Regions from separate parts of the Homo sapiens genome. Here region 1 is linked to region 2. The links come from fine-mapping of genetic effects on gene expression. Tissue or cell type: cerebral cortex. Region 2 holds a variant in brackets; the other region holds the start of a gene. All regions are shown on one strand. Distances are from middle to middle.

The links. PIP is the estimated chance that this variant, and not a neighbour inherited with it, causes the effect.
Region 1: it holds the start of SNAI1, and the variant in region 2 is fine-mapped to the expression of SNAI1 in cerebral cortex (GTEx, PIP 0.96).

What each region holds. Positions count from the first base shown.
Region 1 is chr20:49,978,545-49,986,645 of GRCh38, forward strand. It overlaps SNAI1 (snail family transcriptional repressor 1), which reads left to right and starts at 4,436. Exons shown (of 3, transcript NM_005985.4): 1 at 4,436-4,597; 2 at 5,280-5,807. The coding sequence starts at 4,516. RefSeq lists silencers at 610-669, 770-869, 3,931-4,450 and an enhancer at 2,841-3,778.
Region 2 is chr20:50,385,734-50,393,834 of GRCh38, forward strand. It overlaps LOC124904928 (a long non-coding RNA gene), which reads right to left and starts at 1,937. Exons shown (of 2, transcript XR_007067641.1): 1 at 1,691-1,937; 2 at 1-794. The variant G/A (reference allele first, on the strand shown) is at 4,663.

The DNA of each region.
Region 1 (8,101 bases), 410 kb before region 2:
AAGCTGGAGTGCAGTGGTATGATCTTGGCTCATGGACGCCTCTACCTCCCAGGCTCAAGTGATCCTCCCACCTCAGCCTCCCGAGTAGCTGGGACAACAGGCATGTAACCTGCCTATTTTTTGTTTTGTTTTGTTTTGTTTTTTTGAGACAGGGTCTTGCTATATTGCCCGGGCTTGTCTCAAACTTCTGGGCTCAAGCGATCCTCCCACCTTGACCTCCCAAAGCTCTGGGATTACAGGTGTGAGCCACCACGCACTGCCCATGCACATATTAATATATACATAGGCCATCCCTGGAAGGTCATACAAGACACTGGTTTAAAAAAAAAAAAAGGTTGCTTTGGGGAGGGAAAAGGAGGTCTGGAATGGAGGGAGACTCTTCTTTTAGTTGGGTAACTGTAAATCACATTATTTAGCTACTGGTTTTACTTCTAGTGGGAGATTGGCACCTGCAGAAAATGCAGGTGTCTATTCAAATGTACCTTCCTTCCAGAAGCCTTTCGTGAGCACACTAGGTATTCCCAGATTGCCCTCCCGGCAGTTATACCAGCCTTCACCTCCCTGAAAAGCACGTGCCCCCTGCACCCCGCGACGATTGCAGGGAGGCGCCTTGGCCAGCAGAGGGCGCCAGAGGACCGCGCCCCAGGCCTGGGGCGGGACCCCCTCGTGCGGGGAGCTGGGGAGGGCCTGGCCCTGCCGGGTCCCAGGCCACCTGGGCCGCAGATGTCGCCCATTTCCGGGAGGACCTGACCCCACAGTATCAAAAGTGTCACCTCACCTTCCCCTGCAAAGGGAGCTGGGTCTGCGGCCGAGAGGCCTGGCCCGAAGCCTCCTCTCACCTCGTGGTCTCCGCCGCCTGCAGGAGGGAGTGGAGCGAGGGCGGGCCTGGAGGGGGTGGCGGGGACAATTCGATCCGATCTGAGCAAGGCCCCTCCCCTCTGCGTTGCCTCCCACCCCCATGCCCCGCGCAGGTGCCTGACCACTGAAGGAAAGTGGAAAGCGGGAGGCCCAGGCAGTGGCTGCCTGCAAGTACTTGATTGAGCCCCCATTATGTGCTTTGAAGAAAACAGAATAAGACAATGAGAGAGAAAGGTGGGCTGGGCGCGGTGGCTCACTCCTGTAATCCCACCAAGTTGGGAGGCTAAAGTGGGAGGATCAATTGAGCCGCAGAGTTTGAGACCAGCCTGGGCAACATAGTGGGACCCCATTTCTACAAAAAATAAATTAGCCAGGCATGGTAGCGCGTCTCAGTGAAAAAAGGGGGAAAAAAAGAAAAAAGAAGGTGGGTGCTGGGGCAAGGGTGGGTCCTACTTTGGCTAGGGTGATCAGGGAAGGCTCCCCTGAGGAAGTGACTTACATTTTTTGTGTTAAATATATTATTCATACCTAAAAGTGTTTAAATTGTCTCTGTACACTACCATGTCATGAAGATACGGTAAAATAAATAGTCCATGTACAGTAGAAAGACTAACAATAAAGATCCCTCCCTGCCTAGGAAACAGATCATTACCAAAATTCTAGAAGCTTCATGTGCAGCCTGTTCTTGCCTCCCCTCCTCACCAGCCACTCTTCAGAATTTTGTATCAAACATCTCCTTGCAGCCGGCATAGTGGCTCACCCCTGTAATCCCAGCACTTTGGCAGGCTGAGCTCAGGAGTTCCAGGCGGCAGTGAGCCGTGATTGTGCCACTGCACTCCAGCCTGGGTGACAGAGCAAGACCCCGTCTCAAAAACAAAACAAAAAACCACTTCCTTGCTTTTCTTTCTAATTCTACAACCCCCACATACATCCCTAAATAATATAGGGTTTCATTTGCCTGCTTCAGAACCTCGTATAAATCCAAATAACTATGCATTTGTTTGTGACCTCTGCTCGACATTGTGTTTTTGAGATTCATCCCTGTTGCTGCATGGAGTTGTAGTTCATTTTTATTGCTGTATAGTATTCTATTACAGGATTGCACCAGGGTTCATTAATCCAGTCTACTGTTTATAAACATTTGTGTTGTATCCAGTTTTGTTTTAGTTTTTGCTTTTTTTGCTATTAGGAACGAGGGTACAATGAATATCCTTTTTTGTTTTTTCGGGGTTTGGGCTGGACAACAGTTCTTTACTTTGCTTGGTTGCTCATTATAATCCCCAGGGGAGTTTTTTAAAATGCTGATGCCAGAGGCCCCACCCAGACTAATTAAATCAAGATGTGGGTGGGGGTGGGGTGGGCCGAGGCTTAGGTGTTTTAATCCTTCCCTGTGGGGATCTAATGTGCTGCCAGAGCTGAGAACCCCTGGGATGCAGTTGGTTTGAGGACAGACTTGTCAGCTGCAGCCCCTGGGATGCAGTTGGCTTGAGGACAGACAGGGAGAGGAGTCACCTGTTGCTAGCTGATGCCAAACTTTTCCAAAGTGACTATGCCCACCGACCCTCTCGCCAGCTCTCACCTCCTCATCAACTCTTGATAGTGACCAAATTTTTCCTTGTTGTCCTTCTGATGGGCGTGAAATGGCAGCTCACTGTGGCTTGAATTTGCCATTTCTCTCTTCACTAAACGAGGCTGAGCAGTTAGTGAAGTTGCTGCTGAAACAAAGAATGAAAGGAAGCCAGCGTGAAGATCTAGGAGCAAGAGACGTAGGGGAGAGGAGGAAGAGCAGCAGGTGCCAAGGTGGGAAAGGTCTGGGATGTTGGAGGAACAGAAGGAAGGCTGGGGGTGGGATCCTTGTGCATGGGGGAGGGAGAGAGGCTCAAGCCAATGTCAGCTGGGGTCAGAGCAGCGGGGCCGAGTTGGCTGAGGAGAGGACTTTGGCTTTTACTCTGAGACAGGCGCATGGGAGGGTTTGAGCAGAGGAGGGGGTGATCTGGCCTCACTTTGGCTTCAAGCAAAGGATCCTGATTGGAGCTAAATTGACACGGGACGGGGAGTATTCCGCTTAATGACTGCTTACTGCCTCTGTCCCCCACCCTACTGCCCGCTCTCCAGCTAGAACCAGGGGAGGACGATTTTGTTCACGGCTGTCACACCCGGCACCAAGTGACTAAACAGACAGTAGTTCTGCCCTTCAGGTTGGTGGTGGTGGTGGTGTGGGGTGCTTATAGGTTTTTATAGTCTTCCTTCACAGGTGGAAACAAGAACGGTGAGACCTGTGAGGTTTATTTCAGAGCCACCCCCGGGCCTGGTACGCCTCCCAGGGAAGCTGGGGTGGGGGTGCAGCTGCCCCTCACTTGGGCCCACCCCACATGCATTCAGTCAGGGCCCCTATGGAGCCGTGTTACAGCCTTTAGACACAGGATCGAGGATCTTCACGGGGTGAGGAGACACGCCCGGCCCATGCCTTCTTTCTCCCGCCAGCCTACAGGGATCTTTTTCAACGAAACTCTAACCAGGTCCCTCCTCAGCTGAAAATCCTTCGGTGGCTCCCCAGTGCCCTTGAGGCAAAGTCCAAACTCCTACGAGGCCCTGGGGCCCAGCACATCTGACCCCTCCGGGCATGCCCATCCCACCCCATCCCTGGAAGCTGCTCTCTAGGAGTTACTCTGAAGCAGTTGCCACTTCTTCCCTCGGGCCTTTTCCCTTGATAATTCTTCACTTCCTCTGGGAAGTCACCCCGACCCCCTGTCAGGTGACCCGCCTCTTAACGGTCGCCGCGTCCCGTCTCTCCCCCACCAAAGCACACTTCCCTTTGCATTGTAATTATCTGTTTACTTCGTCTGTCTCCCTCACTGGACCAGAAGCTACCCTTCGGGAGAGGCTCTGAGTGTTCTGTCCGGGGCTGTGCCCTGGCCCCAGGTACAGTGCCCCACACGTGCTGGGCGCTCCGTAAACACTGGATAAGGGAAGGAACGGGTGCTCTTGGCTAGCTGGGCCAGGCTGCTTTGCAAAAAGGCCGTGGCATTTCAAGCCGCCGAGAGCCACGTGCGGTGTCCCTTTCCTCGCTTCCTCCCCAGTGATGTGCGTTTCCCTCGTCAATGCCACGCTCTCCAGGCGCCAGCCGGGCGGAGGAAATTTCCGCCCCCTCCCAAGCCCGAGGCGGGGGCGGGCGTCGGAAGGTCAGGTGTCCCGGCCGGCGCGCAGCGCCAGGGGGCGTCAGAAGCGCTCAGACCACCGGGCGCTGAGCCGGTGGGCGCGCGGCGTCCTGCCGGGGTCCCACCTCGCAGAGGCCTCGCTTCGCTCGACGTCCCGCCCCGGACAGCCCCAGCACCGGGGACGACCCGCGCTGCGCCAGCGAACCCCGCCTCGGAGGAGTCCCCGCCCGGGCTCTCACCGCCACGCGGCGCGAGCCCGGCCAGCAGCCGGCGCACCTGCTCGGGGAGTGGCCTTCGGCGGAGACGAGCCTCCGATTGGCGCGGAGGTGACAAAGGGGCGTGGCAGATAAGGCCCCGCCCCTCCCACCCCCCACCACCCCCCCGGAGTACTTAAGGGAGTTGGCGGCGCTGCTGCATTCATTGCGCCGCGGCACGGCCTAGCGAGTGGTTCTTCTGCGCTACTGCTGCGCGAATCGGCGACCCCAGTGCCTCGACCACTATGCCGCGCTCTTTCCTCGTCAGGAAGCCCTCCGACCCCAATCGGAAGCCTAACTACAGCGAGCTGCAGGACTCTAATCCAGGTGCGTTGGAGGGGTTCTGGGCTCCAGGAGGTTTGGGGGAGACAGGCGAAGGCTGCGTGGGGGGCACCTGAGGGAGGCGGCCTGCCTGAGCCAGGATCGAGTCACAGGATGTTTTGTGGACCATTGCGGGCTCGGGAGACCGGGCAAGTGGGTCCCCAGTTCCGGGGATCTGTCTGGGTGGTTGGGGGAGTGCCGTGTAGAGGGCAGGGGTCTTCAGCTTGGGGGGCCTTTGTAGCCGGCGAGAGGCGGAGGAGCTCCGCAAGAGGGGAAGGAGAGGAGGCCTGTGTCAGGAGGGCCCTCTGGACGCTGCTGGGGAGAGTCCGGAGTCCAGAGGGTTGAGGGGAGGGGTGGGGAGACGAGATGTGTGTGAGGAGGGGGATTGGGGCAGGGTGGTGGCTCCGGGGCTGGGATGATGGGGTTCTGGCCTCAGGCTGGAGACTGGGGACTTAGGAGAGGGAGATCAGGAAATGACCTCCTTCAACTGGGGGTCCTACGTGTGAGAGACTCAGATTGGGTGACCTGGGCGAGGAGGGCAGGAACCTGGTCTGTCCTGTGGATAATTTTTTTGATCTAATTATGTATTGAGAATCGGCCCCACCCAGCCCCTGGCCAGCGGTGGGCTCATGTTTGTTGATTGAGTGAATGATTTAATTAACGCCTGACTCTGCTTTTTCTCCCTCAGAGTTTACCTTCCAGCAGCCCTACGACCAGGCCCACCTGCTGGCAGCCATCCCACCTCCGGAGATCCTCAACCCCACCGCCTCGCTGCCAATGCTCATCTGGGACTCTGTCCTGGCGCCCCAAGCCCAGCCAATTGCCTGGGCCTCCCTTCGGCTCCAGGAGAGTCCCAGGGTGGCAGAGCTGACCTCCCTGTCAGATGAGGACAGTGGGAAAGGCTCCCAGCCCCCCAGCCCACCCTCACCGGCTCCTTCGTCCTTCTCCTCTACTTCAGTCTCTTCCTTGGAGGCCGAGGCCTATGCTGCCTTCCCAGGCTTGGGCCAAGTGCCCAAGCAGCTGGCCCAGCTCTCTGAGGCCAAGGATCTCCAGGCTCGAAAGGCCTTCAACTGCAAATACTGCAACAAGGAATACCTCAGCCTGGGTGCCCTCAAGATGCACATCCGAAGCCACACGCTGCCCTGCGTCTGCGGAACCTGCGGGAAGGCCTTCTCTAGGCCCTGGCTGCTACAAGGCCATGTCCGGACCCACACTGGTACGTGCCCCTCCAGGCGCCCCCACCGTTGCTCTCTCTGGCAGCTTTTGTGAATCTGGGCTTGCTGTTCTCATTCCCAAAGCTGTGGACACTGAGGCCCCGAGTCTTCTAACTTCTAGCTCAAGTTCCAGGGCCTGGCTCTCTGGAAACGTTTGGCAGAAACTTTCTTCATCAGCTAAGCAGATGGGCAAAGCAGACACCTTCCCAATCCCCTGCAGCCTGTTTCTCAGCCAAATGGGTCGGAGCTGGATATGGGAAAGGTGCAACCAACACCTTGCTGTGGGGGCCAGGTGTGAAGGGGCCCACCCGGCCACACCCTCTCCCGGGTCCGCCCCCTCCCTAGCCAGACAGGATGTTGTCAGACCCCCCGCCTGGCTCTGAATCCTTCTTTGAGAACTTTCTCAAAACTTAGGCTGATGTTTCTCTTCTGTGAGCCTCATTTTCTCTATCTTTCAGATGGGCATGAGAACAGCTTTTGGGGTTTCTATACAGGCTAAATGCAGGAATGCATATGGGAAGCACCTGGCAAAGTGCCGGTACCTGCTAAACTCTCACAAAAATGGTTCCTTGGCATTTGCTCTGCTTCCTTGCTGTGTGACTTTGGGCAAGCAACTTAACCTCTCTGAGCCTTAGGGGAAAACTATGATAGCATATGTTTTAGAGAGTGGCTGTAAAGGTGGCTAATCACTTTATAGTAATTTATTATACCCGAACGGTTCTCAGGTCGGCTTCCCCACCCCCACTGAATCCTAGCACACAGACCAGGAAACGGCATCTTTGGGGCAGAAAACACAATCACGTCTTTTGAAAATTTACTAAATGTGTAAAAAACTTTCTGGACATGGAGAAAAGGTAGAACTTTTTAGAACTTGAATGGTGGCAGCCACTGTGCCTGGAGCTGCTCTTTGGAGAGTGACAGTTGAGGGAGAAGATTCCACAGGGTTCAAGCTGGCCAGGTTCTGCCATTTCCTGGCCTGGCGCCTGACCTCTGAGCGGTGAGGGTTAGTGAGGTGTCTGGGAGGACTGGCAATTCGCGGGCTTTATTGGCATCTTATTCGACTAAGGCTACCCATTTCTCTTCCTTCGTGCACCAATTGCTCTGATTTTAACATGTAAAGGTCCAACTGCCTGGCCTCCTGGGTGCCTGCCCAGCTCACAGGGCTCTATTTTGGGACAGTTGAACCCCTCAGGGTGCTGCAGTCCTGCCTGCCTCTCTCACCTCCCATCTGGACATTATTTTAATGTAAAGGCATGGCTGAGACACAGAAATCCCCTTGAAATGTATCATTGCGGTCCTCATTGACTCCCATTGTGTGCCTTAATGGTGGGCCCAGTGGGTGGGGGCTGGGAGGGGTGGAGCAGGTGCATGGGGCAGCGGTGCCCAGCACCTGTTCCAGTCACAGCTGCTGGCCCACTGCATGGCAGGCCCCTTTAATCCGGGGATATCGCATGTACAGTGCCCCCCTCGGCGCCCTTTGTCCCCGCCGGCCTGGTGCCGATTTCACACTTGCCAGGAGTACCATGAAGGCGTCTGGGGGGCGAGGGATCCAAGGAGTGGGGGTCTGTGCCTCCTGCGTGTGCACACAGCCCCCGCCCCCAGCCCATCATGTCCTAGAATGTCTCCTTCCCCTTTTGTTTGGGTTCAGGTCTCATCACACTTTGGGCACTTACTGTACAGGAGGGTAGTGCTCAGGACTTCACCAACAGCCCTGGGAAGGGAAGGGAGGTGCTGTCCTAACTCTGGTCTTACAAATGGACTCCAGCCCCTTTTCCAGATCTCCAGAGTCAGCCCTTAGTTCACAAGGGTGAACTTACCCTTCTCATTCACATGAAGACTTAGAATGCAATCAACAAACCCTTCAGGCGTGGCGTGTGGAGGCTGCTGAGTAATGGCAGAGTGGAGTAGTGCTCAGGCACCCCTCCCCCAATCCTCTATGTCCCCCACCCTTTGGAGTGGCGAGTTTCCATTTCTGCCCCATGAGACTGAGTCCAGCTCTCAGGCGCTCCATAAGTCCCTATTGAATGCATGGGTCCCATTGGAGCCATCCTCTGGACTCTCTCCTACCCTGGTAGCTCAGTGTGGCACCCTAGGCACCCAGGAGGTGATGGAATGAATTCACTCTCAGCTCTTAAATTCCATCCAGCGCTGGGATTTCACAGGCGGGCCCTGACCTTGCGGGCATATCAGACTGGGCGTGAGGGGATTGGAGAATTGCATGTTTTTTAAAAAGACTATTCAGTATTATGGAATAGTGTCTAGCACTTAGTAGGAGCTCAGTAGATTAAAAAAAAAA
Region 2 (8,101 bases):
GCCCAACGGCAAGAGAGAAAATAATAAATATCTAACATGTCAGGTAGTGACGAACAGATATGAAGACAAATAAGGCAAGGCGAGGGGAGACTTATTTGAGAAGGGTCACTATTTCAGGAGGGAATTCAGGGTCAGCCTCTCTGCTAAGAAGGGATTGCAATGAAGTAAGGGGGTGGCAAGTGCAAAGGCACTGGGGTAGAAAGGGGCTTGGTGGCCGCCTGTGCAATGAGTGTGAGAGGTGGAAGAGGCTACAATATGGGCGTGGCTTCCTCCCTGAGTGAAGTAGGGAGCCATGGGAGGGTTTTGAGCAGAGGAGGGCCCTGCCCTGACTTTGATTTTTACAGAATCCCTCTGGCTACTTGTGGATAACAGTCTTCATGGGGGCCAGGAAGCGGAGAAGTCTGCTGCAGGAAGCGAGGTTTTGCAGGCCTCATGACACTTAGATCACAGAGAGGATTCAGGGGTTTGAGTGACATTCTCAAAAGACACAGGAAAACCAAACAGGATTTTCGGGTTAACCAGAAGCTGCCAGAAGATGGACGGTGCCCAGCATGCCCTGCCCCCAGGCACCCTGGTCCATGGGCCTTTTGTGCAGCATCCTCGGCGGGTGTGGACGCTGTGGTGCTGGTGTTGCTGGTGGGTTTTCCCCTGTGCCTGCCTCTTGGCTGTTGAGGACAGTGCTGGGGAGGATGTGAGCACTTAGCACCCCAGCGTGGTCCGGGCGATGGTGGCCCAGCTCCCGCCAAAGACGCTGACTTCTTTGAACCCGAGAACAAACATTGACGTTCTTAGTTCTGCAAAAAAAAAAAAAAAAAAGCCCTGCGTCCATGCACGCTGTATCCCCCCATCACCAAACTCACTTATCTCGCTGCACAATCCTTCAAAGCACAACACAATGTATTTATGTCTGTGGTTTAGGTTCCCAAAACCTGTGACATCAGATAAGTACGATGTTCACAAAAACAAACATCGCAGAAAGGGAAAAAAACGACCAAAAAGAAGCAGCTGGTTTCAGCCTCGACTTCCTCTCCCAAGAAAAAGGGGCTCTATCTGGCTGAGGTTTCACTGTATTCAGGCTGGGGGGTCAGAGGAATGCCGTCCTGCCCTCTGTCCAACTGCTCGCATCTCAGCCTTTGATGTGTGACTCTCTGAGGCTGAAAAATCTCACCTGCAAAATGGAAATGCCAATCTCCACCTCTTGGGACTCATAAAAATAATAATAAAATGATAATAAAAATATACCAATAATTGCTCATCTTTGGATCAATTGTGTTCCATAGGTCATTTCCTTAGCAAATCCTCACATCGGCCTGTGTTTTGCCTTCACGTGGGGTGGCTACTGAGAACATCTCCAGTTGACACATGGGGAAACTGAGGCTTCAAGTAGGAAAAATAGGCAGTTATAAAACACTGCATGGCTACTTTTGGTTTTTAGAAAATGCAAACATGTAATATATAAATTAAATAAATAAATAACAAAATATAAAAATATAATTAGGCAAAAAAGTTTGGCCGGTTAAATGCCCAAAAGCCACAGTGCTTTCCTGAGTATCAGAGTGACCATTGAGACAGGAGTCCCACCGCTGTCTCCTTCTCGTCATTCCCGTCTCGGCAAAATGTCACCTCTGCTGAGAGGTCGTCCCCAAGCTCTTGCCTAAGGTGGCCCTCCGGTCCCTCTTATTCCACTCACCTTATCTCTTTCTGCCCTGACCGTCGCTGGAATGCGCCGTATTTTTTCATCTGTTTCTGGGCTTATCGCCTGTGTTCCCCGCTAGAGCTTCAGACCCAGGAAAGCAGGAACTTCACCCCGTCCCCAGAGCCTTGCCCAGTGCCTGGCACTAGTGGATCTCAATACATATTCCTGGACCAACGGAAGGTGTTTTCTTATTTTTAAAAAATGTACTTTGCACACTGGGCAAGGTGGCTCACACCTGTAATCCCAGCACTTTGGGTGGATGAGGCGGGAGGATCGCTTGAGTCTAGGAGTTCAACACCCATCTGGGCAACATAGTGAGACCCTATCTCTATAAAAAAAAAAAAATTAAAGTATTAGCAGGGCGTGGTGATACCTGCCTGTAGTTCCAGCTACTCCGGAGGCTGAAGTGGGAGGACTGCTTGAACCCAAGAGGTCGAGGCTGCAGTGAGCCGTAATCATGCCACTGCACTCCAGCCTTGGTGACAGCTAGACCTTGTCTCAAAAATAAAAATACAAAGTGAAAAAATTGCTTTGCTTTTTCAAAAGCAAAGCACACCATATGAGTTGTTTTTAATTGTTGTTTTAAGTGCTGGTCAAAAATGAGCTGGCAGGAGCCTCAGCAGGAAGGCACAGCCTCGGCGGGCTTATCTGGCTGAGTGTGAAGGAAGTGGGCACACTGGCTTCCCACAGAGTGGGTCAAGCAGCGAACATCCCAGAGTTTCCCAGCCCAGTCTGCCCCCAGTTCTCTGGCGCTGGAGATCTTCCCGCCTGGGACAGGGTTATCTTTGAATGACAGCGTGTTCAGTCTCCCCCATGGGGTGAGGCTGCCCTGAATCTCAGGGAGCAACAGGGATCCCCTGGGCCAAACACAGCCCCCAGGAGATGTTGCTTGGCCCATGCAGTTCAAACAGCTTGGAATTTTGGCATTATTTTAAAAATCAAGATATTTTGGAAGAAAACTTTGAAAATCCTCCCAAAGGGCACCAAATAAGATGAGAATAATTGGATGGGAAGATTTCACATCCTTAAGATGACCATTCTGCCAACATACATAAAACTTAATGCAATTTAAAGTAGCGACCCACAAGGTTTTTTTAGTTGGATAAAACAATCTTTGAGTTCACAAAGAAAAAAGTACAAAATGAAAGAACAATGAGAAGGATCAGGACAAAGATAATATTTCAACTCACTGGGAAAATGGAATATTTAATCCAGGACCCCAGCCGAGCCCACTATCAGCAAAAAACAAAAATGGACTCCCATCTTCTACTACAAATCCAGGGAGTTCACATAAAACACCTGGCTTGTCCAAAAGTCCCGACCACACTGGGCCCTTATTTTTGCAAGGCAGCAATGGATTGATGCTGAGTTGCATCTCGGGGACTCTCCACTTCACCACAGTCTCCACCATTCCCTACTGCATCCCACCTGACTGCCTTCAATCATCTGTGTGTCTTGCTTGGGTGTTCGTAGCCTCTGAACTCACTACACAACAGAAGGACTCAGGGAACCTTTGAAGTTGGATTTCTGCTGTTAGCCACCTTTGTACTGTTCTCATTTTGCATAGTGGAAATGTGTATTTAGAGGAGGGATGTGGCTTCAGGCATGATTAAGAGCATGATTAAGTTGGTCCACCTGGGCCGGGCGCGGTGGCTCAGGCCTGCAATTCCAATGCTTTGGAAGGCTAAGGTGGGAGGAATGCCTGAGGCCAGGAGTTCAAGACCAGCCTGGGTGACAGAGCGAGACCCTGCCTCTAAAAAAGAAAAAAGAAAGAAAGAAAAAGAGCATGGAGCTAGAAGCTAGAGAGGCTTGAGCAACCTGTGAAGAGCGACTTCCCCGCTCAGTGCCTCAGTTTCCTCCTCTGCCACATGGGGATAATAAGAGCTGTCACACATCATGTTAGTTGCAGAGATTTGTGCCATTCTGCAAAATTCTTAGCCCGGGGCCCAGTGCAGTGTCGGTGCCAGGGAAACAGTGGTGATGACAAAACCCTCCCTTTACATCTACGGCTTTTAGTTCTCAGGCTTCTAAGGGAGGAAAGAAAAAGGAAGAAACGAAGGGAGGAGGGGTGCAGAGCGGAGCATTTGCTTTTACCTTTGATCTCCTTTTGCCAAAAAGGAGGGGAGAAAGTAAATAAACAGGCCTGGCCTCCTTTGATTCCAGCGCCTGCCCGGCACAGAGCTCCAGAGCTGATAAGAACCAGCCAAGTTCTAACTGGGCAACTCCACCCTCCTGACCAGGCCTTCCCTTGGCATTTGGAATCCAGGACGCCAAAGCCCTCCCCTGCACCCTACTGTCAGCATGCACCGTTAATGCCCTTCTCGCCTTCCCAACCATGGGAGAAAAGATGGAGAGAACTTCCCCACTGTGGAACCCCACACAAAACAATTGGGCGGGTTTGGAGACAAGAAAAGGGTCTTAGAAAGCGGCTTCCGAATACATTAGAAACCCAGTCCCCCATCCCAGGAAGAAGCCCCCACACTGGGGACTTGCAGGAAAACAAAATGCTCAGGGATTTGTCTTGGCAATGAATTAAGCAGAAGGCTGGTGAAGTTCTCGGCGCAGAGCAGAACCACCCCTCCCACCCCCCAGTGGTTGGTGGAGAGAAGCCGTGTGGCACGGTGGGTAATGGTATAGCTTTGAACCCATTCGTTTATGGTTGTGTGACTTTGGGCAAGTGACTCGGCCCTGTCGAACTTCAGTTTCTCATCAGCCCTGGCACTGGGCTCATGGGATTGTTAAAGGTTAACTGAGGTTGTGCCCATCGGGTGCCTGGCGCATACATAGCAGGTGCTTGTGCTTGGACACTGTGATTATAAAATGGCTTAGGGAGTCCCAGGATGGCCTCAGGAGGAGAGACAAAAAAAAAAAAATGCTCAGGCCTCATGTCCGGAAAGATGAAAGAGGATCAGTTTGAAATCTCTAAAGGCACCAAGGGCCATGCAGTGGCCAAGGTCAGGCACCGG[G/A]TCTGCTTGAAGTTGACAGGAGGTAAATTCAGGACAAAGTTTAGCATACACAGAAGACATTCCTTCCACATTCCCCCCAGGTAGGCCCTAGCTGATGGCTCTAAGAGCTTCCCCAGGACCTCTGCTAAATAGCTCAGAGCTAAGGCAGAGGGCCTGGGAGAAGAGGCAGAGGTGAGGGGTCCCTCCCACCCCTGCCTCCTCCTGGCTGTGTGACCTGTGTGCCTGGCCTCAGTTTCTCCACCTGTAAAATGAGGCCATAATAACACCAACCCTGTAGGTTTTGAGGATAGAACACATGGCATTCTGCTGGTGCTCAATGAATGAACAAAAGTCACAAACCACAGCTACTTCCAGGATGAGGCTGTGGAAGCGGTTGTCAGCAGGGAAAGAACTGACTGCTCTTGACTCCTTTCTTAGGAAGTCCAGGCTCAATTCCACATCCACGCCCCGTCCACCTACCCTGGAGGCAGGGCCTCGCTCTGCTTCGCACATTCGCAAGTCCCCAGGGCCTGGCATAGAGCAAGTATTTGTTCAATGAATGCATGAGCCTGGATACTCTGTGGAGTCAACCTCCACTGAGAGCAAAGGGAGGCCCAGAGAGGCCAGGTAACTTGCCCGAGGCCTCACAGCCCCCTGCCTGCCTGAAGGCAGAGCTGGAACTGGGGCTGAGCTGAGCCTGGTCTGCACCCCTACTTGCTCTGGGCCTTCCCCTCGGGGAAGCCTGCTGTCCCCCACCTGAACACACCCTGCCCAGGCTTCCCCCACCCAGCAGAGCAGGCACAAGGAGCTCCTCAGGTGGAAGGAGCTCCTCCTTCCACGAGTGTTCCAGACGCTCACTGACCTCTGCAGGGACTGGCCTTCCCCTCTCTCCCTGGTAGGCTGAAGGCCACCAGCTTGCCACCTGCAGGCCTCGTCTGGCTTCAGACGAGTTCCGTTATGACCTGCACTGTGTGGTTTTGTATAACCTGCACTGCATGGGTTTCCTTCATCATTTTGAATCATTTGCCAACATTTAAAAATTGGCGATTTCGTATAAAACCCAGAATTTCCAGCTTCTTTCGGAAAGTCGGCCTCTCTGGCCACCAGGCCTGCTTTTTTCTGGCTCTGGTCAGCAGGAGCTTCGTCCTAGGCCTCTTCACTCCCCTCGCTCTGACCTGGTGGTCCTCACTCAACCCTGGGCCTACTCTCCCAGGCTTACAGCCTCCTTACATAAAGGCCCAGGCCTGCCCGGAGACCAGGCCACTCGCTCCCCCGCCACCGTGCGGTGCCTCCTCCGTTCACCCTCAGCCCGGGCACTCCCAGGGAAAGCCAAAAAGGCAGGATTGGAGCCAAACTCTAGGTGTCCAGTAGACAGAATAATGACCCCCCAAAGGTGCCCACCTCCTAATCCCCAGAGCCTGTGAACATGTGACCTTACATGGCAAAGGGACTTTGTAGGTGTGATTCAATTCAGGGTCTTGAGATGGGAAGATGAGCCTGGCTTATCCAGTGGACCCAAGGCAGTCACCAGGGGCCTTATGAGAGGGAGGCGGGAGGGTCAGGCCCAGAGGGCCCACTTCGACTCCAGTGGGAGCAGAGGTGGGAGCGGTGCAAGCCAGTGAGTGCCATTGGCCTCAAGACAAGGCATGGATTCTCCCCTGAAGCCTCCAGAAGGAACTCCATACTGCCTGCACCTTGATTTTCCCCTCGTAAGACCCACTTTGGCTTTCTGACTTTCAGAACAGTAAGGTCATGAAAGTGTGTCATTTTCAGTTTGGTGTAATCTGTTACAGCAGCAATAGGAAACATCCCAGGGTTTGAACCCAGGCTTGGCCACTCCCTGGCTATATGCCCTGGGGCAGGTGACATAGTACTGAGCCTGGGTTTTCCCGTCTGAAAAGGGGGTGAGCAGAGACTTCTGTTAGGTGGGGGCTGTGTGTGGGGGTGAAGTCGATGGCACAGGTAAGGTGTGGGGCAGAGCCCTGACAGCTCACGCGCTAGACGCCACCATGGTTAGCATCGCCCTCTTACTTCCTCTCACTTCTCTCACTGTCACTGAAACCAACTCAGAGCAGGCTTTTGAATCTGCCCACTGCTGCCCAAGATAAAGACGAAACTTCCTACTTAGGATCCTACACAATCTGCCTTCCCTAATAATAATAACAGTAATGATTAAAACAATAATGTCCACTAGCACTGATGAAGCACTTGGCAAGAGCCAGATATTAACTACGTATTAAACTCATTTAGGCCAGGTGCAGTGGCTCACACTCATCCCAGTGCTTTAGGAGGCAAGGTGGGAGAATCGCTTGAGGCCAGGAGTTCAAGACCAGCCTGGGCAACATAGCAAGACCCCCAATCCCTACAAAAAATAAAAAATTTGCCATGTGTGGTGGCATGTACCTATAGTCCCAGCTACTCAGGAGGCAGAGATGGAAAGGATTGCTTGAGCCCTGGAGGTTGAGGCTGCAGTGAGCTGAGATATCACCACTGCACTCCAGCCTGGGTGACAGAGTGAGTGAGACCCAGACTCAAAAAAACACACACAAAAAATTATTTAGGCCAGATGCAGTGGCTCTTGCCTGTAATTCCAGCACCTTGGGAGGCTGAGGTAGAAAGATCGCCTAAGGCTAGGAGTTTGAGACCTGACTGGGCAACAGAGTGAGACCTCATCTCTCCAAAAAAATTAAAAATTAGCCAGGCATGGTGGTGTGCACCTGTAGTCCCAGCTATTCAGTGGGCTAAGGCAGGCAGATCGCTTGAGCTCAGGAGTTGGGAGGCTGCAGTGAGCTATGATCAAGCCACTGCACTCCAACCGGGGTGACAGAGTGAGACTCTGTTTCTAAAATAAATAAATAATAACTTCGAAAATTCACTTAATGCTCACGACAATCCTATCACTTGCCCTATTTTTCTGATAGGTAAACTGAGGCCCAAAAGATTAAGTCACTTGCCCAGGATCCCCTGGCAGGCTGGTAGCTAGCTGGGATTTGAACCCACGTGGTTGGGTCTTGGAGCCTGGATGCTAACCATGGGGCCGTGCTGCCTGTATATATGAGCAGACCAGGGAATAACACTCAGGGCCCCAGGGAGTGGCCAGAGACTCAGTGATCATGGCCTCCCCTCCATACACTGCCTGTCCTGGGTACAATCCTGGACCCGAGAGATCTGAGGGTCGTGGCTCCTCCTGGTACACAGTTTGTACCCACAAGTGTGTTTATTTTGCAAAACAGTTTCCAGCAGTGCCCACTCTCTGCCGGACACCTGGTTTCCAGAAAAAATGCAGACCCCTCCACTGTACTTAAGATGGTGGAGACAGGCCGGGTGTGGTGGCTCACGCCTGTAATCCCAGCACTTTGGGAGGCCGAGGCAGGCGGATCACCTGAGGTCACGAGTTCGAGATCAGCCTGGCCAACATGGCGAAACCCTGTCTCTACTAAAAATACAAAATTAGCCGGGC